Homo sapiens: one gene and its partners. The protein of the gene in region 5 purifies or fractionates together with the protein of the main gene of each other region. This does not show direct contact. Each region holds a gene or a part of one and is shown on either strand. Other genes may lie near its edges. The genes, in order: ZCCHC9, LBR, ZNF638, PHF10, BHLHA15, YBX3 and PRDM10.

What was found.
Region 1: the proteins of BHLHA15 (region 5) and ZCCHC9 purify together in Homo sapiens (co-immunoprecipitation; 2 studies listed by BioGRID and IntAct, with this or other methods). This does not show direct contact.
Region 2: the proteins of BHLHA15 (region 5) and LBR purify together in Homo sapiens (affinity purification with mass spectrometry; 2 studies listed by BioGRID and IntAct, with this or other methods). This does not show direct contact.
Region 3: the proteins of BHLHA15 (region 5) and ZNF638 purify together in Homo sapiens (affinity purification with mass spectrometry; 2 studies listed by BioGRID and IntAct, with this or other methods). This does not show direct contact.
Region 4: the proteins of BHLHA15 (region 5) and PHF10 purify together in Homo sapiens (affinity purification with mass spectrometry; 2 studies listed by BioGRID and IntAct, with this or other methods). This does not show direct contact.
Region 6: the proteins of BHLHA15 (region 5) and YBX3 purify together in Homo sapiens (affinity purification with mass spectrometry; 2 studies listed by BioGRID and IntAct, with this or other methods). This does not show direct contact.
Region 7: the proteins of BHLHA15 (region 5) and PRDM10 purify together in Homo sapiens (affinity purification with mass spectrometry; 2 studies listed by BioGRID and IntAct, with this or other methods). This does not show direct contact.

Annotation. Positions count from the first base shown.
Region 1 is NC_000005.10:81,300,092-81,304,414, reverse strand, and holds the start of ZCCHC9 (zinc finger CCHC domain-containing protein 9), read right to left. Parts: upstream 2,829-4,323; 5' UTR 2,717-2,828; exon of another isoform or gene 2,360-2,716; intron 1,206-2,359; exon of another isoform or gene 212-1,205; intron 1-211. UniProt on the Homo sapiens protein: May down-regulate transcription mediated by NF-kappa-B and the serum response element.
Region 2 is NC_000001.11:225,417,939-225,421,809, forward strand, and holds part of LBR (delta(14)-sterol reductase LBR), read right to left. Parts: intron 1,861-3,871; coding exon 1,777-1,860; intron 1,515-1,776; coding exon 1,325-1,514; intron 243-1,324; coding exon 46-242; intron 1-45. UniProt on the Homo sapiens protein: Catalyzes the reduction of the C14-unsaturated bond of lanosterol, as part of the metabolic pathway leading to cholesterol biosynthesis.
Region 3 is NC_000002.12:71,352,198-71,356,068, reverse strand, and holds part of ZNF638 (zinc finger protein 638), read right to left. Parts: intron 351-3,871; coding exon 289-350; intron 1-288.
Region 4 is NC_000006.12:169,714,225-169,718,095, forward strand, and holds part of PHF10 (PHD finger protein 10), read right to left. Parts: intron 3,683-3,871; coding exon 3,599-3,682; intron 1,865-3,598; coding exon 1,731-1,864; intron 1,634-1,730; coding exon 1,484-1,633; intron 619-1,483; coding exon 509-618; intron 1-508. UniProt on the Homo sapiens protein: Involved in transcription activity regulation by chromatin remodeling. Belongs to the neural progenitors-specific chromatin remodeling complex (npBAF complex) and is required for the proliferation of neural progenitors.
Region 5 is NC_000007.14:98,209,889-98,214,238, reverse strand, and holds the start of BHLHA15 (class A basic helix-loop-helix protein 15), read right to left. Parts: upstream 2,801-4,350; 5' UTR 2,741-2,800; intron 1,984-2,740; 5' UTR 1,930-1,983; coding exon 1,360-1,929; 3' UTR 1-1,359. UniProt on the Homo sapiens protein: Plays a role in controlling the transcriptional activity of MYOD1, ensuring that expanding myoblast populations remain undifferentiated. Repression may occur through muscle-specific E-box occupancy by homodimers.
Region 6 is NC_000012.12:10,702,586-10,706,456, reverse strand, and holds part of YBX3 (Y-box-binding protein 3), read left to right. Parts: intron 1-2,308; coding exon 2,309-2,406; intron 2,407-3,871. UniProt on the Homo sapiens protein: Binds to the GM-CSF promoter. Seems to act as a repressor. Also binds to full-length mRNA and to short RNA sequences containing the consensus site 5'-UCCAUCA-3'. May have a role in translation repression.
Region 7 is NC_000011.10:129,999,687-130,004,357, forward strand, and holds the start of PRDM10 (PR domain zinc finger protein 10), read right to left. Parts: upstream 3,150-4,671; 5' UTR 3,036-3,149; exon of another isoform or gene 2,938-3,035; intron 1-2,937.

The DNA of each region.
Region 1 (4,323 bases), on a different chromosome or scaffold from region 5:
ATTCCTCCCACATTCTGCAGTTTTCCCGGCTGTTTATTTTCCTATCTCCAAGTCCCACAGCTACTTTCTCCCAATCTTCTTGCTTCGTCTGCCATTTCAATGCAACAATTTGCATAGCAGATTACTAAGTATACAGAAATCATGTCCTTTAATATGAAGTTTGTTGAAATTTCCTGGCAAAGTTATAAGTAAAACATATAAAAGTGTTTACCATCACAGGATGATCCCGGGCTTCCTCTTACTAATCAAGGTATAAGCTACTTCCAGCCCAGTGATTTCACATCATCTTCAATTCTATTTAAATTATGACTTGAATCATAAGATATATTTCACACCAAAATCTGTATCTTGTTTTTATACTCTTAATACATATGCTTTAATATTCAGAAATAACTTTTCATTTTAGAGCACATACATAAAGAAGTAATTTATCCTAACACTAATGATTTGGCTCCAACATAAAATGGAAAAAAGTTTTGGTCACTTACATACTACCTAGTGATTTGGAGGATATTTTTTTCCTGCAATGAATGAGAACATTCAGCCATAATCAAAGATTCATCAGCTAGTCACATGCTACATAACATTTAGGTCAACAGCGACTGCACACATGATACTGGTCTCAGATGATTATAATGGAGCTGAAAAATTCCTATTGACTTTGTAGCCCTCATAACTTGTAGTGTAACACATTACTCATGTCTGTGGTAATGCTGGTGTAAACAAACCTGGGATGCCAGTCATATACAAGCATAATGCTTACAATGATGTACTGTACATAATACTAGACAATTATAAGTATTCCAGAAAAAAGCAGTTATTATAGGAGATGACAGCTCCATTCATGTTACTGCCCCTGAAAACCTTCCAGTAGGACAAGATGTGGAGGAAGAAAAGAGTGATATTGATGCTCCTGACCCGGTGTAGGCACAATGTGTGTGTCTTAGTTTATAACAACAAAAAAAATTTTTACAGGAAAAAGCTATAGAATAATGTAAGGGAATAAAGAAAATATTTTTATATAGCTATACAACACATTAGCATTTTAAGCTAAGTGTTATTACAAAAGAGTGGGCCGGGTATGGTGGCTCACGCCTGTAATCCCAGCACTTTGGGAGGCCAAGGCCAGGTGGATCACAAGGTCAGGATATCGAGACCATCCTGGCCAACATGGTCAAACCCCATCTCTACTAAAAATACAAAAATTAGCTGGGCGTGGTGGCGCACTCTTGTAGTCCCAGCTACAGGCGCGCACCACCTGGGAAGCTGAGGCAGGAGAATCGCTTGAACTCAAGAGGTGGACGTTGCAGTGAGCTGAGATTGCGCCACTGCACTCCAGCCTGGGTGACAAGAGCAAAACTCTGTCTCAAAAATGAGAGACAGAGAGAATAAACTCCGTCTCAAAAAAAAAAAAAAAAGGTCAAGGAGTTAAAATTAATTTAAAAGTTTATAAAGTTAAAAAAGCACAGTAAGCTAAGGTTATTACCTTATTTTTAATAAACTTAGACTAAGCATACCGCATTTATAAAGTCTACAGTAGTGTACAGTAATACCCTAAATAATATCGTAGGCCTTCACACTCACATACCACTCACTGACTCACTTAATAGCTACCGACAGCCCTGCAAGCTCCATGCGTAAGTGCCCTATTCAGCTGTACCATGTTTTCTTTTACACTATATTTTTACAGTATCTTTTCTGTGTTTAGATACACACCATCCTTTTACAACTGCCTACAGTATTTAGTAGTTATACTGTACAGGTCTGTAGACTAGGAGTAACAGGCTATCCCATACGGCCCAGCTGTGTAGGTTTGTGCAAGTACACTATGATGTTCACACAACCACGAAACGGCCCAACCATTTCTCATAACTATACCAGTTCTTAAGGGGAGCATGGCTGTATTAAGCCACCACCTTTTTTGTTGTTGTTGTGGTCGTTGTTGAGACGGAGTCTCACTCTGTAGCCCAACCTGGAGTGCAGTGGGCGATCTTGGCTCACTGCAACCTCTGCCGCCAGGGCTCAAGCGATTCTCGGGCCTCAGCCTCCCGAATAGCTGGGATTACAGGCGCGTGCCACCACGCCCAGCTAATTTTTTGTATTTTAGTAGAGAAGGGGTTTCACCATGTTGCCCAGGGTGGTCTCGAACTCCTGAGCTCAGGAGATCTGCCCGCCTCGACCTCCCAAAGTGCTGGGATTACAGGCGTGAGCCACCGCGCCCGGCCTAAATTATCACCTTTTAAGACCAGCATCCCTGGCAACCCCCCAAGTCTCAGCTCCTAGTAACAGAAAGACCCCTTCCACAGAAGCTGAAGGGTGGACCCAATGAATTGGTGTGAGAAACTCCATGCCACTTTACCAGCGCACTCTTCGCTGAAGTTTATGCGACTGTCATAGTGGGGACCGAAGCTGTTCAAAAGGAAGTAGATTATCCTTCCCCTACGTACGTGGGAAGGGGGAGGCTCTGGGTTATCAAGAGGGTGAAGTGGGAGAGCCAAGCGGCCCACCCACAGGCGGATTCCAGGGCGGCTGGACGCACAGCCCCCAGCAGCCGGAGCCCAACAGCTGAGGTCGCCGCCCCTAGACAGCCCGCGCTCCAGCCAGCTCAGGGACCCAGCGGCTAAGCCTTCTGTCCTCCCAGCTTCCCACGCAAGTTCCGCCAGGCCAGAGGGAACGAACGACGAGACCCTGCAGCTTTGGTGGCTGAGAACCTCACCTCACCGCGCTACCGCGCAGCTTCTTACCGCGCACGAATCCCCCAGAGCAGCCGAGTTGGCGAGCCGGGGAAGACCGCCCTCCTGCGGTATTGGAGACCGGAAGCACATAGTGCCCGAGAGCGCGTCACTTCCGGCGTCACAGACGGTCTTTACAAGCGACTCGTGGGCGTCAATACTGGGCTGAGTTTGTGGCGCGCTTAGTGATGGGATGGCCCTGTGCAGGACGCCGACACGAAAAGATGAAGAGTTCAATCCGTGCTGTCTGAACTCACAGTGTAGCAGGCGAGATAGACGGGAAGATCGGTAGGGTGGGAGATGCCGGAAAGGCTTCCCGTGAGACTGGATAAGAAATCAAAAATCTGGTGAAATTGCCGGCAAGAGGGAGTTAAGGACATTCCAGGCAGAGGCAAGGTAAAGGCGCGGTGGGAGTGGGTCACTGTGATAAAAGTCTGAAAAGGACATTTGGGGGCTCTCTTGGGTGAGAGGCAGTGCCTCATGTCCCCCCTTCAGTGCTCGTTGAGCATTCAATTAAAATGTTAACACTTTGTAGCCAAACAAGTTCTCTTTTTAAGAGGAAAACCCTGGATTTCCAAACGGCTCATTTTCTGTAGCTTCTTGCAAATGGATACCACCACCAGCTGTGCCTAGTGAAAAAATGCAATTTACCAGGACCACTACTCTCAACAGTTTGCTCAATCCATTTAACCTTTTGAATATTTGTCCACTTCTTTTTATCTCTGTTGGCACCTCCTCCCTTGTCCCATATTGTACCTGTAGTTCTACAACTGGTCTGGGGATTCATTCTGCCCCAACTCCCTGAAATCCATTTTCCGTGTCGTAGGAACGGAACTTTTGAAAATGTAAATCATTACATTTAAAGCAGTACTGCTGTACTGCTTTAAACTCTCCCTTCGCTTCCCATTGTTTTAGGATGAAATTCGAACTCCTTATGAAGTCCCTGCCTACTTCCCTAGCCTCACCTTGCTCAGTCTCTCCTTTGAGCTCCGTGCATAGGATCATTTTTTCAATTTCTCAAATGCCGTGTGTACCTTGCCATCTCCAGGCCTTTACATTTGCTAGTCTCTTTGTATGGTACTCCTTTTCTTCTTCCAGTTACTTTCTACTCACCCTTCAAGGCTTTAAGTATTTTATTCTCAAGAAAGCCTTCCAGCCCCCTACCCCCATACTAGACCAATCCCCTACTGTGTGCTCACGGCAGTCTATACTTTCTTATGACACGGTTCACATTTGTAATTACACAATAATTGTGTAAGTTTATTGTATCCTCATTGCCTGGTACATCCTTGGTGCTCACTGCGTATTTGTTTTTTTGTTTTGTTTTGTTTTGTTTTTTGAGAAGGAGTTTGGCTCTTGTCGCCCAGGCTGGAGTGCAATGGCGCGATCTCGGCTCACTGCAACCTCTGCGTCCCGGGTTCAAGCGATTCTTCTGCCTCAGCCGCCCAAGTAGCTGAGATTACAGGCGCCCGCCACCGCGCCCGGCTAGATTTTGTATTTTTAGTAGTGATGGGATATCGCCATGTTGGCCAGGTTGGTCTCAAACTCCTGAGTTAGGCGATCCGCCCACCTCTTCCCTCCAAAGTGCTGG
Region 2 (3,871 bases), on a different chromosome or scaffold from region 5:
GAGACCTCATCTTATTAAAACAAAACAGAATTACCATAAACGTACCTTTCCAATTGGCAGTAGGTAGAACAGGACTTGAATCAAAAACCACAGGAGGTAGACCCCAAATACTCTGGTTTCCCATAACTCATACAAAGCTGGCAAAGGAGGAGGGAAATTCAGAAGACTGGGATCTTTCTGTTTACACATCAACAGCAACAGGAAGAGGAACACAGGCAGGCCAAACATGATGAGAAACACACCTGCAAACAATTCATGAACATTCGAGGCTCAAATTTCAATCTGGTTTATTTATTTAAGAATCATGTTAGATTTGTTAAGATCAGAACTCGTTATCTGGCTAACTGTCTGAAACCAATTTCTAATGTACCATCAAAAACTCCCATCTCTACCTGTCACCTCTGGTGGCCTGGCAACCATGGGCATCAAAGTAGTAAAAAAAATAAATAAATAAAAATAAAAAAAAAAAGAAAGAGGTCCAACATTGAATAGCTACACCCACCTCAGAAACCAAGCTCTAAAACATTTGACCTCCAACCACTAAGGAGCGAATGTGTTGAAACTCCAGCAAACTGAAGATCAGAACATCTAAAAATTATCAGCCTAATCTTAACAAAAAACTTTATATTCCTCAGTTTCTAACAATTAAAATAGTGTCACGTTCATGTAATGTGTGCAGATTTTAAGTGATGCTGGACAGCATCTGTAACAGGCCAGCTAGCCAAAGGTTATAACAAAATACAAAGCAATTAAGCCATGCAGGATTTTGAGCCATTTAGACAAGAAGTCTTTTCTTTTACTAGCTCATAAAATTTCATCAGTTCCACCCACTTAGTAACTCCAAAACTCTGCACACTTCAGATCTTTGACCCTCACAATCAACCCGCCTAGCAGGTAGGGCAGCCTCCGGGATCCCATTTTATGCAGGCAGCTGAGGCCCACTGCTGGCCCCTGCCGCCTCAGGTCTGACTATTAGCAGAGCTCTCTGTCCCTGATAAGTAACCATCTATGCTATACAAACTCCCAGATCAACCTTCCTTTATCACTTCTTTGTACTTCTGTGCTCAAAACCTCTGAACAGACTGCTAAAAGTTTTAAACACAGCTACAATGGCATCCTTTCTACTCCATAATCCCTCAAAATGCTCCCACCTCAAGCCTTTGCACCCACTGTTCCTTCTCTGGAAGGCTCTTCCACAGGTTCCCACCAGGCTCATTACCTTGCCTGCCTCAGATGTCTTCAGAGAGGCCTTTCCAGTTCACCTTGTGGCAACCACCCCTAGCTCACCCCACCTGCCCTCTCTGGGCCCAGCTCTGAGGCCTACCAGGTACTCCTCCAAACTCCAAGTCCTTTGCCCGGATGGGGGTCACTTCAAAGGTTCTCACTGCCAGTTCTTTTGCAACGTATTTTTCTTCCTTAGAATCTATTTCTTTTAATTTGACTTCTTCTCTTCTTGGACGAAGGCTATACTGTGTTGCTATGTAACTGCTTTCTTGTGACAAACTGAATTTTTCCTAAATGAAAAATTTAAAAATTAAATATCTGCAGTGAACAATTACCATTAATGCTACTGCATTAACTATTTCAGCATCTCAATACAGCTATACACTAGTAAGAATAAATTTGTGAAATTATATTCAGTCTTAATTTAAGGACAGAATTTTAGAACAGGTTATAAAATATTACAATTTTCAATGTGCTTCTCAAGGGAGAGTCACTTTTAACCAAAAAAAAGAAAAAAAAAAACAACCAAGATGAAAGGGAACACTTTCCCACCTGTGTATTTTTATGAGGTGCGTCATTTCTCTCAATATGCTCAGGCTCCCCATTATATCTGCTGATGCTATTTCCAAATGGCTTCTAAATTGAAGAATATAAACATTTAATCAAAAGAACTGTAACTTATTAAAAAGAAACATGATGGTAAAAACTTACTGTTTTGGAATCAAGCAATAAAACAGATTTTTCACAGCCTTAATTCTGACGAATTTAACCCTCATTTTGTTAAAAATGAAAAGGAATAAAACTGACTAGAATTTCCCAGTCTCTGAAATATTGGATAGATTTCTACATAAAATCTTTCATCTGGCCAGGCACGGTGGCTCACACCTGTAATCCCAGCACTTTGGGAGGCCAAGGCGGGTGGATCACCTGAGGTCAGGAGTTCAAGACCAGCCTGGCCAACATGGTGAAACCCTGTCTCTACTAAAAATACAAAAAAATTAGCCACGCACGGTAGCGGGCACCTGTAATTCCAGCTACTTCGGAAGCTGAGGCAGGAAAATCTCTTGAACCCGGAGACGGAGGTTGCATTGAGCCAAGACCGCGCCATTGCACTCCAGCCTGGGCAACAAGAATGAAACTCCGCCTCAAAAAAAAAAAAAACAACTTTGATCTTTCACGTAATCAGACTGAATGTCATAATTTCATTGATAGATTTTAGGGGTATTTACTATGAAAGGCAGAGAAAGTAAAAATTGGTAAATTAGTTCATTAACTGGATAAAAAACAAAAGACATTCAAAAAGACATTCACTGCTCCAAAATAGCCCATAATGGAAAACTAAGAAATAGTGGGTACTTATGCAACACACAGTAGGCCCAAGGCACTACCAGGTAAGAGGCAAAGCTTCTGTGGTTCTTGTGACACCAGGACTGTAAGATTACACTGTAAAAATATAGCAGTCACTAAATATTAAAAATGAAAGGATAACAAAGTATCACACAGCATCTGTTCCTGGAGTCCCGGGGTGGTAAAGAGAGCCACTAATAGTTAAAATGTTCTAATTCAAAATATAAGTTAGAACAGTAAGTTGAAAATGTCTGACAGCCACATTCTCCAAAAAAAAAAAAAAAAATTATAATACTCAGAATGAGAAACTGAGCATTCATACACTGATACTACTATAAACTTTCTTGATGCAATCTGGCAATATGTATTAAAAGCCTCAAATCTGCACCATACAGCTGACCTAGCAGTTCCACTTGTAAGAATCCATCCTAAGGAAATAATCAGATGTTACATAAAAATACTTGTTTGTAATAGTGAAAATATGGAAGGAAAAACACTAAATGTCTATCATTGACAGAGCTGACTTTAACGATTAAGTTACATGTATACAATTTACCATATATCCATACTATAGAATACAACAACAAAAATGATGTAGAAAAATACACTCTGAAAGGTTATCCCAATATTTTAAAATGTCTTAAAGCTGACTACTGAGCAGTATGTATATAATCCAGTTTTTAAAGTTTATTAAAAGTCTGTTGCCGGGCGCAGTGGCTCACGCCTGTAATCCCAGCACTTTGGGAGGCCGAGGCGGGTGGATCACGAGGTCAGGAAATCGAGACCATCCTGGCTAACACGGTGAAACCCTGTCTCTACTAAAAATACAAAAAATCAGCCAGGCATGGTGGTGGGCGCCTGTAGTCCCAGCTACTCGGTAGGCTGAGGCAGGAGAATGGCGTGAACCCAGGAGGCGGAGCTTGCAGTGAGCTGAGATTGCGCCACTGCGCTCCAGCCTGGGTGACAGAGCAAGACTCTGTCTCAAAGTCTGTGTGCCTTCTATCCAGAAAAGAGGTTAACATTAAGTGAATAGAAGATTACTTTTATTCTTTTTACTTAACATACTTTGTCTTTGGTCTACTATCTAAAATACTATTTGTACAAGATCTACAGGCTCCATGCACCCTGATATTTCAAAGCTTACATCTTGAAAGTAATTCCACTAAAATCATCTTTGAATAGGTAAAGTGATAAAGTATAATGATGCTAAGAGTAAGAATGTTTCCGTAATACAGGTTTGTCTTACCATTTCATACATGATATGAACTTTTATACACTGTAAAAACCTTACGCAGTTCAA
Region 3 (3,871 bases), on a different chromosome or scaffold from region 5:
ATATAGATAAAAGATCCTGGGGAAGGTAAGCCAGCAAAGAATGAACTAATGACATAAAAAGTTTACCTACTGGGAATTAAGTTAGAAAAGTGTCAAAGGATATACTGAATTCTACCATTTTGGAAAAATATTAAATATACTTCCAGAAAACTAATATTTTTAAAAGACAATAGCTTTCCAAAAATATTTTTCTCCAAAGTATTATACTAAAGGTATTTAACAGTCACATCTGAACATTAACTATTTTGTAAATATGCTATCTATAATAAAGGAAAAATATATTCTTACTGTTGACGTAACTGTCGACAGCTCTCAATATGAGTAGATGTATTTTGATGCTGAATCCAATCCTATTGTAAAAGGAGAAAAGTGTTGAAATTAGAATATTCCTCATGTTGACTAATGAATTAGGCTTTTAAAAAAGACAAATAATATTTTGTTCAAAAATTAAACAAACGTACTCATAAATAGCATTTGGCTGCTCAGTAAAATTTTCACAAACAAAAATTAAAGGCCTTGAAACAAATGCACTTAATACCATACCTCACTGATCCCATTTGAAAATATTTTAGTACAGAAAACATTTTCAAAATCATACCCGTGGATGCTCATTTTGAAATCAATATATAAACTTGGAGAAAATAAAAGCATGGATCAGAAAAAACTTACTGCAAATATAAAAACAACACACCAGAAAACACCAAAAAATCTATAAGTAAAACGGTATCTGTGAAACAGCATCTTCAAAATACAATATTTCAATGACAAATACCTCTAAAATTCACGCTAACAACATCAACAATCAAAAAATGCCGCCGGGCGCAGTGGCTCACGCCTGTAATCCCAGCACTTTGGGAGGCCAAGGAGGGCGGATCACGAGTTCAGGAGATCGACACTACTGTGAAACCCTGTCTCTACTAAAAATACAAAAAATTAGCCAGGCGTTGTGGCGGGCACCTGTAGCCCCAGCGACTCAGGAGGCTGACGCAGGAGAATGGCGTGAACCCGGGAGGCGGAGCTTGCAGTGAGCCGAGATTGCGCCACTGCACTCCAGCCTGGGCGACAGAGCGAGACTCTGTCTCCAAAAAAATAAAAATAAAAATAAAAATAAAATAAAAATGCTACCTGATAGACCAGTACCATTCCATACAAGGTACTCACTATACTGGCAAATAAGATTAGGAAAAACATGGGGAAAAATGCTACTGATCAAATCTATTTTCAAAATTTAAAAGTAACAACATTTCAAAGATACAATATCCCTTACATATAGAGCTTTGAGCTTTACAATTAACGAAATGCTTCTTTTTTTTTTTTCTTTTCTTTTTTTTTTGAGACAGTTTCACTCTTGCTGCCTAGGCTGGAGTGCAATGAGGCGATCTCGGATCACTGCACTCTCCACCTCCTAGGTTCAAGTGATTCTCCTGCCTCAGCCTCCCTAGTAGCTGGAATTAACAGGCATGTGCCACCAAGCCTGGTGAATTTTTGTATTTTTAATAGAGACAGGGTTTCACCATGTTTGTCAGGCTGGTCTCGAACTCCTGACCTCAGGTGATCCACCTGCCTCGGCCTCCCAAAAGTGTTAGGATTACAGGCGTGAGCCACCATGCCCAGCCCAAAATGCTTTCTTATACATTACTTCATTTACAAATAAATCTGTCCTAAAATTACAATGTGTACCCATAAATAACTCTGGAAGATACATCTGGTTAAAAAAAAAAAAAAGCCAATACAGTTTACAAAGATACAGTTTCCAAGGTGAAACAATTAGTTAAAAGCAATATGTATGTTACTCAATGTTTTACTGTTCCTCCAGCATTTGGAAAGGCAGAAAACTTACTAAATAACTTCGTATTTCAACACTTTGCTTAAGGAAAATGTTATTATTTGTTTCCATTTGAAATACATTTTAGTTTAGGTCATTAGAAGTTTCCACAGTTAAAACCACGGTTGACAATAATTTTGGATTCTGCCTTGGCAAGAACTATCTGAAAGAAGGTACACTGATTTGCAATGCTCAGCATCAATTTAAACTCAGCAACAAGGTATGACAAATCCTAAACTATTTCATTAAGCCATGGAACTGATTGTGGACTACAAAAAAGAAATGTTTGTACATCCTGTTTAATAATACAAATAGAAAGCTAGAAGAAGAGTCTCTAGTAGTACTAAAACCCATATTTTTAATATTAATTGGACACTGTTTACATCAAACAGACACACTGGTGCAGGCAGTGGGTTGGGCATGATTTATTTGAACCATAAAGTGTTTTATCTGAATACGTTGCCAACATTTAATAATCCAGAGATTTTTACCCGCAAGTCCAGATTTCCAGCTTTTCTTGAAAAAATAGGAAGATACAGTAATACAGGATATCATTCTTACAGCAACTATCACCTGAAGATGATGGCTGCCCTATTTAAGATATACTCTTCTCAGTTCAACACACATACACACATTCTTAGGCTTGCTTCACAAATTGACATTACTTGCTTTAAGCTCAGTAAACACACCCATCCCACCCCAACTTCTAGACTCTCTAGTAATAGTTTCCACATTATAGTCCAAAAGCAGCACTGCCTCCCCAGAGAAAAAGTGATAATTACCTACTAGCAGGAGATGCTGCAAGGACTGCACAGAATTAGGCAGGCTCAGAATGAAACTGAAAATATATAACTACTCGTATCAGGGCTCACTCACTATTCTCAACAATTTTTTATTGTCGGTACTTTCTCAAACTGAATTATTTCAGTCATTATGACACAGCTCCTAAACCAAGGGAAGTTTCTCCTTTAAAATCTGAACCCCAATTTAACAAGCAAATACATTTCACGTTCTCAAAGTACATCTTCACAGCTATAGTTTCAAAGACTCGAAGGTGGGGAATATACATATTGTCAGATTTACTCAATAGGAAAAAGTTTACAATTGGTAATTTACATTTATTGGCTTCATATTTATGTCATATATACACACACAGGAACACTTACGAGGCTGCAAAATATATCACAGAAACGAGAGGCAGTGTGTACCATCGAAATCCATCTTCACAAATCCCTATCATTTGGCCACTTAGTAGTGAAAAATTCATTACTTAGATGAGCCCCATTCTGTTGTGCTGTTAAAAGGTGTGTCTGTTTTTTAATGGCAATCTATCTAGGTGAGCTCTAATGATGACTAAATGATTTCCTTTCCTCTCAAATTTTTACTTTTATCCTATTAACCCAGGTTTTTACCATCTTATACTTGAACAATTAAAGAAGCTTCCAAGTGGAAGTCCTACTCCACATCATCTCATTTCTATTTACCCTGCATACTTCAGTCAGATCTCCCTAAAATATACTTCCAACATGTCACTTCACTTATCAACAAACTTATTTAGCTTTCTAATGCCTCTCACCTCAAGTCTAAACTCCTAGGCTAGCTCTTCAAAGCCTTTCGTACTTATTTCTAATACGCTCATCACTCTTTCCCAACTGCCTCCTACCACAATGAAATGTAGTCTTCTCTCCGGACCTCTGCCTCTCTGTATGTTGTTGCCGCCAACCCTCCTCTTCTTTTTTTTTTTTTTTATTTTTTTTATTTTTTTTGAGATGGAGTCTCGCTCTGTCACCCAGGCTGGAGTGCAGCGGCGCGATCTCGGCTCACTGCAACCTTCTGCCTCCTGGGTTCAAGCGATTCTCTGCCTCAGCCTCCTGAGTAGCTGGAATTACAGGTGCGCATGACCACACCCGGCTAATTCTTGTATTTTTAGTAGAGACAGGATTTCACCATGTCAGTAAGGGTGGTCTTGAACTCCTGACCTCAGGTGATCCACCTGTCTCGGCCTCCCAAAGTGCTGGGATTACAGGCAGTGAGCCACTGTGCCCG
Region 4 (3,871 bases), on a different chromosome or scaffold from region 5:
GGTCAGCAATGTGGCTGGGGCACCCAGTTGCCCATGCCTGCCCCTCTCCGCTCCTTCTCTCATCTTCTCTGCAGTAAAAGTCAGTGTTTCTCAAACTCTAACCTGCACATGAATCACACAGACATCTGTTAAAATGCAGACTCTGAGTCATAGGTCTAGAGTTGGGCCTGAGATTCTGCATTTCCAACAAGCTTCTGAGCAATAACAGTGCTTTGGACCACGGAACATACCCTGAGCAGTGAGGTGCTACAGAACCCCCAGCATCTGTCTCTAACAAACCCAAACAGAATGGGCAGAGACAGAGGCATCTAGACTTCACCAGCATATATTCAAATTCTGACTACAGGGTATTGTTTACCACAGAACCAGAGAAGAATAGCAACACAAATCCTATACGATATCTTACGGTGATATCTATAGACCCCAAAATTGTTAGGAGGCAAGTACAAAAGGCTCTGAAACCCCTTACCAATAGCCGATACCAACTGTAACTAAAACTACTAAATACCTCTTATAATATTCCTGGAACTGTCCGGGGATGAGAGCCACTGGGTAAGAACTGACCTTTGTTCGCTCTGTTGGCAAAACTTTGTACTTCCCTTGAGGTACCTGGATAACCTACGTTAACATAAAGAGAAACACAAAACTGATTCCATGCTAAGAATCAAGGCTTTAGGAAGAGTCCCCACGTGCTCACCACTGCACGCCCACTTCCCCCTCGAAAAGCTAAAATTTTAGGAGATATCAGGAGCTATAACCTAAGAGGACAGTTGGTGCTTTCAGTTCTATATATTATTGTTTTAAAGGCCTATTCTCCTGAGGAATGGCAGTGGATCTCTTGCTCACTACTTAACAGCAGAGTGATCTGGGTAGCTTATACGACCTCTCTGTAGCTCAATTTCTTTATGAAATGGAAGTAATCCTAGTTCCAACCTCACATGGTTACTATGAGAATTAACATGCAAATCTCTTAAAAACTCTTGGGACGCACAGCAAGTATGATATGTAGCTATTATTAGTCTCATTTAGAATTATTAACCGTAAAGCAAAAGACATCTCACAAAAAAATGTAAATTGAGTATTATTAAGCACACCATTAAAAATAACATCTCAACTTCTGAGGAAAAAAAGAACACGCAGGTGTCAGCATGGCCAACATGGTAAAACACCATCTCTACTAAAAATACAAAAAATTAGCTGGGTGTGGTGGCAGGCGCCTGTAATCCCAGCTAATGGGGAGGCTGAGGCAGAAGCATCGCCTGAACCCGGGAGGCGGAGGTTGCAGTGAGCCGAGATCATGCCACTGCACTCCATCCTGGGCTACACAGACTCTGCCACAAAAAACAAAACAAAACAAACAAACAAACAAAAAAAACACACACACATAGGTGGTACAAAAAATAACGATAAAGGGGGTGATGGGCACTCTGCAATAACAAGTAATAAACTAAGTTCAGGGGGTACTAAATTTAAGTTATCCTACATGTGTCTGCAAGTCAAAATAAGCTCTTCTTTCTTCCATGCGTTCCCGGTTTAAGTTGCTATTAAATTCTGCTGCTTTTTTGGCAGCTTTCTTAATATACTCAGGCACTTTACTGGCTTCAACTTTCTGAGTATTCTGTTGTTGCATTTGCTGGAAAAAAAAAATACAGTTGGAAGTCACATATAACTTTCTAAAATGTCATTTTCCCCAACCCAAATAAAAAATGCCAGTCACCTCAATTACTTACGGAATACTCTTTATAATGGTCTGTAATTCGTTGACGTTCTTTTTCTTGTAGAATAACAGAATACTCAGCATGTTTGGCTGGATATTCTTTTATCATTAAATCAATCACTTCATCACTGCGCAATGCTGTTAAGCCTATTTTAGACCAAAAAATAAAAAAATAAAGAAGCTCTTTTAAGGATAAGTGAACAAAAGCACTCTTCAAAATTTAATTCTTCAAACCGCTCCACGTTGTAATGGTTTTCCAATAGCCAAAGCAAAATATCTTAGTACATTTGAAAATAATTAAACTTAATATTCACAATATAAACTCGAGCAATCAAAAGATTATCTTGCAAAAGGCAAATATATCAATTTTTCAACCAAACAAGTTTATTTTTAAGATTCTATGTGCTTTGAACATATATCCCTTTAGTTGGAAACAACTGTTAAATAATGAAATGCACTAACTACTAACAAGTACTACAGAATACTAGATGAATAAAAAAAAATTCAACATATTATAGTTCCCAGTCTTCAAATTCCATACACAAGAAATATTACAATCAATTAAAATTTCACCAAAAACATCAGCACACACACACACACCATGGAGACAATTTTCAAAACTCACAGTATCAGATTTCACCAATTGCTAAAATGCATTCCCAAGAATTTATATAAAAAGTAGCCATGTTGCATTAAAATGTTTGTGAAAAAAAGATTACAAATAAAGCACGGACATAATTATACAGAACTAAAAATTGAAGAAAATTTGCCTTTTTGCATTTTAGAGATGTGGTCTCGCCATCTTGCCCAGGCTGGAGTGCAGTGGCTATTCACAGACATGATCACAGCACACTACAACCCCAAAGTCCTGTGTTCCAGTGATCCTCCTCCCTCAGCCTCCCAAGTAGCTGGGACCACACGCACACACCATGCACTTAGCAAAGAACCTGCAACTTAAAAAAATATATTGTACAAGCTTTGTACAAAAAATACAAACACTCTGAAAACTCTGTAAAAATTATTAGACAAGGGCTGGGCATGGTGGCTCATGCCTGTAATCCCAGCACTTTGGGAGACCAAGGTGGGTGGATCACAAGGTCAGAAGTTGGAGACCAGCCTGGCCAACATGGTAAAACCCCGTCTCTAATAAAAATACAAAAATTAGATGGCTGTGATGACATGCGCCTGTAGTACCAGCTACTCGGTAGGCTGAGGGAGAATTCCTTGAACCCGGGAGATGGAGGTTGCAGTGAGCTAAGATCGCGCCACTGCATGCCAGCCTGGACAACAGAGAGAGACTCTGTGTTAAAAAAAAGAGAAAAATTAGACAATTATACTCTGTTATAGAATAGAGGTTGATCCTTGACTTGCAATGGGGTTACATATGATAAACCCATCCTAAGTTGAAACTATCCTAAAAAGTAAAAGCATTTAATACATCTAGCCTACCAAACATCTTTGCTTACCCTAGCCTAACTTAAACATGCTCAGAAAACTTACATTAGCCTACAGCTGGGCAAAATCAGCTAACACAAATTTTAATATAAAGTGTTGAATATGTCATGTGACTTGTTACATATTATACTGCAAGTGAAAAGAATAATGGTTGTATAGACACTTGAAGTATGGTTTCTACTGAATATGCATTGCTTTCACACCATCATGAAGCTGAACCATCATAAGTCAGGAACCACATGTGTGTTCAAGCTTCATTCTCCTGTGTATTTTAACAATAATCAAAAATGAAGTAAATAATGTAGCATTTAAATAGTTCAATTTATTTTATTAATTTTGTAAAATATTTTAGGAAATAAGATACTTATCTAGTATTATCTCATAAATGTTCAGCTTGAAAAATTCACATTAAAAAGCTATTCTTACCTAGAGTGCACTGAGTTTCAGTAATGACATTTAGCTCTCTCAGGTAGAGTTTCTCCTTGTGAGACAAATCTCGTCGCTCTAAATCTCCAAAAAAAAGATCAAAAGACTATTAAAAACAGCAAAACCTTATGCACTTGTAAAACTTTTAAAAGCTTAAAAACCTTGACTTTTTAAAGTATTCATATTACATATTCCAAATATTATTAAAGGGGCTACAAAAAAATTTATAAATTCAAGAAATAAAACTCAGCAAGATACAAAAGTTAGAATAAA
Region 5 (4,350 bases):
GGTGTTACCTGTGTCCTTACGTGGCTAGGCCTGACCCCAAGTGCCACAACCCCCAACTTGGGGAGGGCAGGGCCACCTGGTGGGGACGGGCCAGCCAGAGCCCTTGGTCTCAGCTGTGGCAGCCACATCCCTGGCCCGGCTTGGCCCTGAGGGCCTTTGGGACATCTCTGGGCAGAGGCATGAGGGAGGGGAGAGTCCAGTAGCCAAGTCCGGCAGAGCCAGTGGGGCAGGAACGCCCAGCAGAAGGAAGCTGGGCTTGGGGCAGCAGAGACGTGCCAAGCCACCAGGCCTGGCCATGAGGATGAAGCACCTGGGCGGGGGAAGGGACGTACCTGCCACCCCAAGGCTCCACCAGGCAGAGAGACCCAACGGGCTGCCAACTCAAACCAGAACCCAAGCACGTCATAATGTCCTACAGACAGCATGGTGCCAATTATATGATAACCCCACATCAGTGAGAATAAGTAACGGCGGTGGCAGGGGCTGGGTGGGGGGCACACTCGCTCCCCACACAGGCCAGGGCTGAGCAGGAGGCCTCAGAGCTGCTCTTGGGGAGCAACCCAGGGCCTTGGGGCTTCTCTCCCATGCCCAGAAGGGCTGCACCAGGAACACCCAGCCCTGTCTCCTGCTCCAGTTCCACAGCACCCCTCACACCCTGCCCCAGACCCTCCACAACCAGGCACAGCCTGGAGTCAACACATCCAGGAGCCCCAACTTGGGAGGAGGGAGGAAGAGACTCCAGCCCCTCCCCACCATTCAACTTTTAAGGATGAATTGGAGGTCATCTGATTAGAGTTTCTGGCAGCTCCAATCATCTCTGATTGGCCCCACTCCCCGAGCAGCCTTAGGCTCTGCCGGGCTTGTCCCGGGCCTCAGTTTACCCCAAATGAGGATGCTGAGCCCAGGCCCCATGTAGCCCTATAACAAAGGTTGGAGAGGGGGTCCTTGCTGGGGCTTTGGCCTTGGAAAACCTGCAGGTAAACCTTTTCCTGGGATCTCCCCTTGCCCAGAAGTCAGGGTGAAGAGACGTTAGTTCCAAGGCTAAGGAGGCCTTTCAACTCGGGCTGAGACTGCCTGGCTCAATGAAAAATCAGGATCCAACTGGGCCCTACCTAGAGGTTTGGGCCTCACGCCGCTGTCCAGGGCCACAGCCGCAACTAGGCCACTCGCTGGTCCCCAGCGGGGCAGGAAAAATTGCTCCAGGGAAGTGGCTGAATGTTCGGGGGAAAATGGAACCGCTGAGGCCGTGTCCTTGTGGGGTGTCACCGCCCATCTGGGGCTCGTGGCTTGGAGGGACTGGGGCTGGGAGGAGCAGGCCAGGCAGCTGCGGCCACCGCCACCCCCACCCAGGACTGGGCGCTAGGTGCCCTCTCGGAAGCTGTGGATCTGCGTGGAGTACCTCTGCAGGTGGCCCTGGGGCTGGGCCTCCGTGGCCCCCAACGCACCCCCAGCCACCTGCTGCTGCTGCTGGTAGTGCTGGTAGAGCTTGGGGCCCGGCCCCTCCAGGCCTGGGAGGCGGCTGCTGGACATGGTCAGGATGGTGGCCGTCAGCGATTTGATGTAGTTCTTGGCCAGCGTGAGCGTCTCGATCTTGGAGAGCTTCTTGTCCGCGCGCACGTGGGGGATGACTTCACGCAGGGCCTGGAAGGCGTTATTTAGCTTGTGCATCCGCTGCCGCTCCCTCTCGTTGCTCTCCAGCCGCCGCTGGATGCTGCTGTCACGACGGCCACCGGGCCCGGAGGGTCCTGGCCGCCTGCGCCTGCCCTCGCCCGGAGCCCTTGCTGCGGCCCGGGCCGGCCGGCTCCGCAGACCCTTGGCCGGCTCTGGCCCCGGGTTCGGCAGGGACCCGTCGGGCGTCCCCTCCCCGGGGGTGGCCTCTGTGTCCTGCACCGGGGCCCGGCGCCGTGGGGGCCGGTTCTTGGTCTTCATGGCCCTGGACTGGCTGTCCTAGGAGGTGGCGGCAGGAAGGTGAGGCCCTTGGAGCTGAAATCCAGAACACAGGACACTCTGTGGTCACCCCACATGGGCAGGGGACCCGCTGGGGTGCCGTCCCTGGCAGCCTCCTCCTTGCTGACAGCAATGGTACCAGGGGCAGGGGTTGGCGCTCTGCGACTGGAGGTCCTTCTGTTCACACGCTTAGCCCTGGGCTGACCCCACACACACCCACGCCCTTGCTTTACCTCAAACAGACCTCTGGAATCTGTCCCTGTCCCTGCGTCCCCCTTCCCCCAGGATGACTCATCCTGACCCCTAGATCTTCCTCTGGCTCATGCCCCTCACTGCCCCCAGAGTGCCTCCTGAGCTCGGTGACCTTTGACACTTTGCCTAGAATGCGTCCCCCACCCTAGCTTAGGGGGCGCCTCTGCCGGAGGCGGCACTGACTTCATCCCGTGGGCGGGCAGTGACTCCAGCCACCAGGCTCTCACTGTCCTGCCCCGCTGGACGTGACACGTGCAGGGACAGCACTGGGGCCAGAACCGCTGCGGACATGGGACAGCACTGGGGCCAGAACCGCTGCGGACATGGGGCAGCCGTGGAGGTCAGAGGTCGGCAATGGCCAGGGCCTGGCGGCAGCCCCCAATCCCACCACGTGGATGGGCCCCGTGGAGCCTCCAGACAGACCAGAAGTCCCCCACCCGGGTTTCCCCACAGCCCCCACAACCCCCACAACCCCACCGCCAGGTCCTGCCCCTGGGTCCCCTCCCCGCGGCCCCACCCGAGTTCCCAGCTCCCGGGTTACCTGGGGATCCGCGGCCACACGCGCCGAGGCTGCCCACGGGGGACAAGGACACGTCGCTTTAGCCGCCCCGGGAGGGGCCGCGGACGCATGCAAATGAGCCCTCGGGGCGGGGCCGGGGCGGGGCCGGGGTCCGGGTGTCCCGGCGGGCGCTGGGCAGCAGTGGCGGCACCTGCGGGCGGGCGGGCGGGAGGCCGGCGCCTGGGGCTCCCGGACCAGGTGGCCGCGCAGCCCCGCCCCCAGCTTCCGCCCCGCCCCCAAGATAGAAAACCTCCCCCGCCCGCCTCTCCCCATCCTCCCCCTACTGCCCCCCACCCTCGTCCCCCAAGACAGCCACCCCCGCCCGCCTCTCCCCACCATCCCCCGACAGCCCCCGACCCTCGTTCCCCCAGACAGCCTCCCCCACACGCTTCTCCCCATCCTCCCCCGACAGCCCCCCAACCGCCCCGAGATAGCTTCCCCCCATTCGTCTCTCCCCATTCTCCCGCTACAGCCCCCCCAAGACAGCCTGCGTCCCCACCTCCCCTACTCCCGTCCCCCGACAGCCTCCCCACAACCTGCTTTTCCCCATCCTCCCCCTCAATTTCCACTCGCGCCTTTCCCACCCGCCTACCCCATATCCGTGCCCGAGACAGCCTCCCCCCGCCCGCTTTCCCCGACCCTCCCCCTGACACAGCACCCCCGCATCCATGCCTCCCGCGATCCTCCTTGCCCGGCCTCTCCACTCGTGGCGGGGCCCGGGCCCATTCCGCCAATGGGAAACAGGTCTCTGGGAGCCGCCGGAAGGAGGGGCAGCCCCGATTCAGGCTCAGCACACAGATCCCAAGTCCCAGGAGCACTCCGGGACGAGCCGCTCCGCGAAAACGCGGGCATCTCCCAGGGGATCCCCCGCCCCGCCGCCCGGGATGTTTAGGGGAACCTGGGGCTCCTACGGGCTGGGGGCGGAGCCCGAGTTGGGGTGGGGGTGGGGGGCTCCTTGGGCAGGTGTGCAGTCCTTGGGAACGCCTGTTTTGTTTGTTTGTTTGTTTTTGAGACGGAGTTTCGCTCTTGCTGCCCAGGCTGGCGTGCAATGGAGCGAGATGATCTCGGCTCACCGCAACCTCCGCCTCCCGGGTTCAAGCGATTCTCCTGCCTCAGCCTCCCGAGTAGCTGGGATTACAGGCATGCACCACCACGCCCAGCTAATTTTTGTATTTTTAGTAGAGACGGGGTTTCTCCACGTTGGCCAGGCTGGTCTTCAACTCCTGACCTCAAGTGATCCACCCGCCTCGGCATCCCAAAGTGCTGGGATTACATGCGTGAGCCACCACGCCCAGCCAAAGCAGCATCTTGCTCAGGGACTATTCGGGGCTGCTAGGGGTGCGGTGACTGCACGCTGCTGGGGGTGCGGTGAGTGTCACGCTGGCTGGCAGGCCTGGGCTCCACACTCATGGGTCTCGCCGCTCTGTCTCAGTACCTCTGGGTGGGAACTCAGAGGGGCCATAGTGGGGCGGGGGGCGGGCACAGAAAGGCTAGCTTGGAGCCAAGGTTAGTTAGTTCTTCTCTTGGCCTAAAGCTCATTTGAGGCTGGGCCAAATGAGGTCCTTGGAAATGAAAATGCTTCCGAAATTCAT
Region 6 (3,871 bases), on a different chromosome or scaffold from region 5:
AAGACAAAAGTTTAAATAGAATGAACTTAAGAAACAGCAAAGGGCGGGAAGAGGAGACATATTCCCCATTGAGGTTTCTGTAGTGGTGGTCATGGTGTTTGGTTTTTCTTTAGTATGTATGTCTGTAAAGAAATGGGGTAGTAGCTGGAAGAAGATAAGGGATCAGAGCAAGATTTTTGCTTGATTTGATTTGCTTTTTACAATGCAGAGTTACCCCTGGTCTCTCCCTTACCCGTTACCTCACCAACAACTTCTAAAGCCATTAAATGGGCAGATCAAGGTAGGCACGTGTGTTTGCCATAAACCCACATATATATATACACACATACATAGACACACATATATGTGTAACATTGTGTGTGTGTGTTCCATGGTTCTGTCTACTGAAAGGTCCTGAAAGCCGTGATATCTTAGTAACAGCATTGAGCATACCTGTCCCCCAATTTTTTGTTTTTAAATAACATTCTCAAACAAAAAGAATTCCCTTTGGAGAAATGGCTGATTTCAGAGCTGGGACAGAGAAAGTATAATATGAGCCTGGAACATCTTGTTGTGCCAGAAAGCGAAGAAGTACTCAAAGAATGTTGGAAACACATCAATAGGATATGAGCCAGCTTGAAGGGGTTCCCATTGGCCAGTAATGATAGTAACAGATTACAACTCATTGAAAAAAATAGAAAACCATGAGTCCATACAAATATAAATAAATAAACCAATATATTGAAAAATTTGATAACGAATAGTATATTTATGCACTTTGTAAGTACTTCCTCACAAAGTACTCATTAATTACAAAGAAGGAAAGAGTCAACTTACAGTGGAGGACTCTGGTGGCAGATACCACCTTAACCACTTATCAAAGTGAACATTATCAGTAATGGCACAAATTGAAACTATATGCCACCTGACAGGATGCAGTGAGGAGAATGCAGTGTCACTTTTGTGACATCCCCCTGGGGATGCAAAAACAATATCTAATCATTAGTGAACACCAATAACCCAAGTTGAGGGATATTTTACAAAATAACTGGTTTGTAATCTTTAAAGAAGTATCAGGGTCATGAAAACCAACGTGGTGGCTCATGCCTGTAATCCCAGCACTTTGGAAGTCTGAGGTGGGTAGATCACGAGGTCAAGAGATTGAGACCATCCTGGCCAACATGATGAAACCCCGTCTGTACTAAAAATACAAAACATTAGCTGGGAGTGGTGGCACATGCCTGTAGTCCCAGCTACTTGCGAGGCTGAGGCAGGAGAATCGCTTGAACCAGGGAGGCAGAGGTTGCAGTGAGCTGAGATCGCGCCACTGCACTCCAGCCTGGCGACAGAGTGAGACTCCATCTCAAATAAATAAATTAAAAAAAACTGCTCCAAACAAAAAGATATAACTTACTTTAGTGCATAATTCTAAACGGTGTTTTTGCTATAAAGGGCATCATTGGGATAAATGGTGAAACTTGAATGGGATCTGAGAATTACATTTAACTTTTCTGTAACTTTGTGCTTATTTCAAAATTTTAAAAAATTGAAAAGGATGGGTGCTATTTCACTGGGTATATATGCTTGGATGGAAATGATAGAAAAGGTGAAAACATAGTGAAGGGATAGCGTTAACATGCTGTGTCTAGTTGATGAGAATAGAGAGGCTGTTGGTTTCAGATATGAACTTGGACCACTTACCCAGGGTAATGGGAGAGAAGAAAATTCTAATGTAAATACAGGGAGCTGGGTAGATTTGCTAATGAGAACGTGGAAATTGTCTTCTGACTGTTTCTCTTTCTTGATGAAATAATGAAGGACAGTATTTGGCTCTTAGGGGGAGGAAGGGATGTTTTGAGAAAAGAAAAGAAAGTTGAGTTATGGCTGTATGGTCAAGAATTGCAGACATTGTTGGTGGGTTTTTTTGTTTTTTTAAGTTGTTCTTTCTTTCCCCTGGAAGTTGTACAATAAGTTAATTTTATTCCACTGGCTTAAAGTAAGTTTGTTGTAAAGAAAAATAAAAGAGTATTTTATTTAAAGAGATGAATGAAATGTATCCGATTTCAAAATGTTAAATTGATAGGCGAAAATAAAGTTAGGTGCTCTGGGACTAAGCAAATGAGTATTCTAGTCAGACTAGGTTTGTCTTCCTTTTCAGTCGTTCACGAAGATTTACTCATAAATAGTTTGTGTTGCAACTGAGAGTGCCTAATTTTGTAATGAAGCATTTTGTTTTTTACTTCTAAAAAAAATTCTGAACATAGCTGTATGCACTGTATCTTATCCCCTGTGCTGTGACACTCACTGTCAGCTCTCATTGCCTCTCCAGGCTGGTGAGATTGGAGAGATGAAGGATGGAGTCCCAGAGGGAGCACAACTTCAGGGACCGGTTCATCGAAATCCAACTTACCGCCCAAGGTACCGTAGGTATGTCGCATTTTCCACTAATGGCCAGTTAAAGGACTTGTGTGCACAATGGTAGAATGAGGACTGTGTGGTTCCGTTTTGTGGATTTATTATATATCTAGAAGATGTGAATGCTTTGACTACATGCCAGAGTTTTCAGGTGGTGGTGTGACATTTCCCACCTACTTAATACTAGAATTTTTAGTTATCTCTGCGCCAAAGCGTCATTTTGTATTCTGGAATTATAATAAGATGTAAATTAATACTTAATTTTTATCAAAATAAATCAGATAAATTATTGGTGGGCAATTCTGTGGTAATGCTGCAGATGGAGGAAGAATTGAGTGTCAGAGGATATTTGGGATAGTGACTGTTAATCACTGAGGCAGTCCAGTAGAGGGGTTAAATCAGGGTATGATCAAATCGCCTGAATTTATCTTCCTACTCTACAGTTCATTAGATGTATGTTCTTGGACTGCATTCCAGCCTGCGCAACAGAGTGAGACCCTGTCTGAAAACAAAGAGATATTCTATAGTTGGGGATTAAAGGTACTAATGCAGCTAAGATAATTAGTGTGGTACCTGATAAAGTAAAGGCCTCACTATGTATTAGATATTATTACCACCATTGAGGTTAATATTAGTGAACGCTGGGTTATTCTATTTGTGCTTTATTCCTTTGGAAGACTGAATTAGGCTAGACTCCTTCCATAAGATCCCTTTGAAGCATTTTATAATATAAGCCTGCCCATTCTTTTATCTTACCCTTTGTGGTAAGTGGAAAAGCTACAACTTCTTCCTGAATGATGTTTATGCTACCTTGAAATTTGTCAGTATGGCTTTATTGAAGGATAAAAAGTATATTATATTGGGAAAGGATTCCACCAATATAATTGTAAAAGGATCGTATCCTTTTTCTTCACAAGGTTCCCTCCAGCTTTAGGCATAATCACTAATGATTAAGTACTAGGGACTTTGAAAATAAAAGAGACGGCATAGAAATGTCTTACTGGAACAAAAAGGATTCAGTAGCGTGTGAGGCTCAGCTTTGTCAGTCCCTGGATATGTGATCTTGGAAAGTCATATTTGACCTTTTTTAACCTATAAAAGCAGCACTTTTATATAGCTCAGCCGTATACTTTATCATGTAAACCTCTTGGTTTTCTTGTTATAAATCTCATCCACAGAATTACCATTCAAATTAAATATTTAATTTTAAAACCGACTAGCACAGGCTCTGGCACATAATAATGTTTCTTCTCATGTTTAATTCCCTTAGTCTCTGCTAAATTCTGTTCATGGAAGGCAGATACCAGACTACTCTTCTTTTCTTTTTTAATTTTCCTATTCTTAGTGCTTATCAAAGGGCCTGATAGGAACAGAGTATGTGTTCAGTATATGTATGTTCCTTACAAATATGTATTCAAATGAAAGGGGAAAATGATGGAAAATTAAGATTTTTTTTTCGTGAAACCTCTATTCCATT
Region 7 (4,671 bases), on a different chromosome or scaffold from region 5:
TAGCTCAGTACTTCTCAGCCCTTTGATGAATTATGTTTGTTATCCAGAAGCCTATCCCTATCAATTAGATTACGCTTTTAAAAAGTTACAAGAAATCAAAATATTATAATTCTTTTAGTTCGGCGGACTTCATGATGCCCCCTTCAAATAATGGAAGTAATGAAAGTGCCCAATCATCAGCAAAGTCTTTAGACACCTATTTACGTCTTGTTTTAAAAACTAGATATTAAACCAAGATTATGTCGTTTGTACAAATATTTTATACACACACAAAACCAACTTGAAATACACCAAAGTATCAGCAAAGATTATCTCTGGGTAATTATGGGTTTTGTTTTTTTTCACTCGCTTCTAAATTTTTTTTTTTTTTTTTTGAGACGGAGTTTCGCTCTTGTTGCCCAGGCTGGAGTGCAATGGCCCGATCTCAGCTCACTGTAAACTCTGCCTCCCGGGTTCAAGTGATTCTCCTGCCTCAGCCTCCCGAGTAGTTGGGATTACAGGCGCCTGCCATCATGTCCGTCCAATTTTTGTATTTTTAGTAGAGACAGGCTTTCACCATGTTGGCCAGGCTAGTCTCGAACTCCTGACCTCAGGTGATCTGCCCGCCTCGCCTCCCAAAGTGCTGGGATTACAGGCATGAGCCACAGCGCCCGGCTTAAATTTTATGTTTTCTCCAATGATCACGCATTATTCTTAAAACTAGAAGGAAAAACAAAACAGGCAAGCAGAAACTTAGGTAGTGCCAATCAATTTGGGATTATATTGAGTTGTGCTATCCTTTATACCTCCATAACCTCTAAGTAAAAACCATTCAGAGCCCTTGAAGACAGGAACCTTGCTTTTTCTAAAATATATACTCAATTACATTGACATACAATATATGATTAATATGTGGTGGAGCATGCTACAAAATATTAGAAAAACTAAAAATGAATTCTTTGAAAAAGCAAAACAATTTTGCCTTGCAAAACGAGGAACAGCATAGCAGAGTGGGAGCTTACGGGGTAGAAGGCACAAGACATTTGTCTTGATCCAAAACAAACAAAAATGTAATCCTTTCACTAAACGTCCCTGTTCACTTTAAAATGGTTCATTCTGTGTCAACTTCACCTCAATTTATTGTAAAAGTAAACCTAAAGGCCGAGCGCGGGGGCCCATGCCTGCAATCCCAGCACTTAGGGATGCTGCGGCGGTAGGATTGCTTGAGCTCAGCAGTTCGTAACCATCCTGGGCAAAATGATGAAACCCCGTTTCTACAAAAAGTAGAAAAATTAGCCAGGCGTGGTGGTGCACGCCTGTAGTCCCAGCTACTAGGGAGGCTGAAGCAGGAGGATCCCTTGAGCCCGGGAGGTCGAGTCGGCAGTGAGCCAAGATCGCGCCACTGCACTCTAGCCTGGGCAACCAGAGACCCTGTCTCCTAAATAAACCTAGCAAAGTTCCTTTCTAAATACCCCATATTGAATAAACACTGTTTAAACGCTGCTTTGCCCCCAACCAATCCTAATTTTAAAAAAAAATCTTGTTTTCTCTATTCTAGAACAACAAATAAGTACTGCTCATCAAAGTGGAAGCTATTGTGATGCTGGAATGGTAGGAAGATACAAAAAAAATACAATGTAATAATACACCTTCTTGCCTTACAGCGATGGAGGAGTGATAGAAACAAAGAGAACAGGTCAGAAAAAGAGGCCACAAAACAGTCATGAGTGATTCTGCTGTTTTTAATAAAGGTTAAGTACTGCTAAGTTTAGAGAATTTGGGGTGACGAGACAGGCAAGGTTTCAACAGGCAAAGCAGCAGAATTAGGGCACAGGGCAGAGCTGGGTGGGTCTCATCACACATCTAATCCTCGATGACAGCACAAAGCCACCTCTCCTTGTGCTTAAGTGTACACGCACATTGATTGAAAATGCACTAAAATCCAACTCATCCACCAAGCAAGGCTAAAGGCGCGCACACAAATTCAACAGCGCTGCGTTCGCGTGGCTGGAGGGCAGACGGGGAATATTCCATTTTACTTAGTAGAGTATCAACACCTAGCTGCAGGGTTAAACCTGCTTAACAAAAGCTGGCGAGGGGCTGGAGAGGTGCACACCATCAGCCCTCTCCCGAGCGCCGACCGGCCTCGCCCTGCCTCTGCGCTGCACCCTGGGTGCAGGCGGACTGGGGCAGGGCCGCGACCCCGGCCTCGGCCTCCGCCTCCGCCCGGCCAGCCCCGACGCGGTGCCACGGGACAGACCCGCAGGGGCCACCCCACACCCCTGCGGGCCGGCCCCCCGCCCCGGTCCCGGACGCTAGCTTGGGAAGGCAGGCCGGGGGCCCAGCCATCGATGGCAAGTGGGCGGCGCGGCCTCCGCAGACAAAGCTGGGCGCCCCATCGAACAGGACCCTCCGCCCCACGCGCCCGCAACCGGCCAGCCCCGGAGCCCTGCCCGCACTGCCACCCCCAGCCCGGCGCCCGGCCCCCAGCCCCCGGTGCTCGGCTCCCGGCCGGCGGAGACCTGCCCGCCGCGCCCGGAGCGCCCGCGCAACCGCCGCCGCCGGAGCGCGCAGGCCGCCCAACCGCCGTCCCGGCCCAACCAACGCGGGCAGGGGAGGAGAGGTGCGCGCGGCCGGCGGAGCGTGCGAGCCACTCGGGGGTCGCAGGGGGAGGCTGCGCGCGGCGAAGGCAGGGGCGACGAGACGCCGAGGCCGGCGCTGAACGCGGCGCCAGGAGGGCCTGCTGGAGGGGGCCTTGCCCTCTTCCCCTTGGAAGGTGCAGATGGTTTGACCCCCCACCCCGAGTGAGGTGCCTCGTCCCAGCCCCGGCTGGACTGTACCATCGGGCGGTGCCGCCGGGATTTCTCCCCCCCACCACCACCATCAATTCCCCCCCCACCCGGGTCCGCGGTCGGTTGGCCCCGGCCGGGCTCTGAGACGCGGAAAGAGCTGGGCGCCATTTTGGGTGGGACTAAGCAAAGACGAAACACCCTCCCAGTCTATGGGGTAGTCTGGACCCTGGCTTATCTGGTTCCCTTAATCCTTTAGGTACTTACACGACGTTGGGTGAGGGGAGCTGGAAGATCAGCGGGTCCCCGATCCTCTCTCCCTAGGGGTGATAGAAATCAACCCCCCCCGCCACCTCCAGGTGGTTCTTCCCGCCGCAGAGTGGGAGCAGCATAAAAGGCGGGGTCTTATTAGCATAATCTGCCTGGCAACCTGATCTCGACGTTATATGATTGGTTAAACTCTGTAAGCCCCATGCCGTGCCTAGAGACGAGAAACGCTGGGGCGAACTGACAGGCCCAGATTTAGGAGTCATGACGAAGATCCTGAGACGCTTATTCAGTCTGCAGAGAAGCCAAAAGGAGATTCACATAATGGCCCAATGACTGAAGGCCTCTTTATTTCGTGCTCTGCTGTTCGTGTAAAACCCAATCGCAGAGCGGGTCTCAGGCGGCGCTCGCCTGCGTTTCTACTCTCAGCCAATCAGAAAACCCGACTCTTCGCATTGGGGTCAAGCCCCCGCTGCGGCCCGCGTGCTAACGGGGAGGAAGCTTCCAGCTGTGCCTGGGTGTCTCGGGCGCCGAGGGCAGCCTGCGCCCGTGCTAAGCCCGCCTCCCGCGCGCCCGAGGGCCCGGTGTCCCGGAAGACGCGCGGGGGTGAGGCGGCCCTCGCGTCCGCCCGCCCCGCCACAGATTGCCTCCGAAGTGGCCTGGCCGTGGAGCGCCGGCGAAAACCGAACTCCCGCCCGGCTCCCGGAGTCGGGAGCCTGCCGGGGTCTCGCCCTCAGGACCCCCAGGGAGCGGCCGGGCGCCGCCTATCACCCTGACCCACCGCACCTTGAGAGCGCTTTCACTGCGCCTCTTTTTTCTCCTCTACCAATCTGGAAAGGAAGTGAGTGTCATTTCAGACATTGAGAAACATTATTCAACACTGGTTACCCAGTGACTCAGCTCACTCCTTAACCGCAGGCTTCCACATCCTGCTGTCCCTTAAAATTGCCTTCACAAAGGGCAGCCAAGAGCCCAGCTTTGGAGAGATACCCAGCTCCAACTACCCACTGGCAGGCAATACGCAGGGCAGCTAGATGGCAGAGAGACCTTGGACCTTCGGACCTTCGGGGAGCGGTTTTCCCTTCGGTGATATCTACCTTGCTATGTTCGTGATATCTACCTTGCTACGTTATTTTGAAGATTAAGTGAGCTCTTACTTTACCGAGTAAAGTGCTTTGCTTAGCACACTGTCTGGAACTTAAATGAGAAGTACTGACAATATAACTTACAAAAATCCTAAACTATTGCCTGAGAAAAAGAGGGAGACAGGACAGCTAAGCAAAAGACGAGAATAGAAAACACCCACAGCGTGAAAAACTGTAAAATTAACTCAATAGTATTCTCTTTACTGTTTTTTGTTTTGTTTTGTTGTTTTGTTTTTTGATACGGAGTCTCGCTCTGTTGCCCAGGCTGGAGTGCAGTGGTGAGATCTGGGCTCATTGCAACCTCTGCCTCCCGGGTTCAAGCGATTCTCCTGCCTCAGCCTCTCTAGTAGCTGAGATTACAGGCATGCACCACCACGCCCGGCTAATTTTTGTATTTTCAGTAGAGATGGGGTTTCCCCATGTTGGCCAGGCTGGTCTCAAACTCTAACGTCAAGTGATTCTCCCGCCTTGGCCTTCCAAATTGCTGGGAT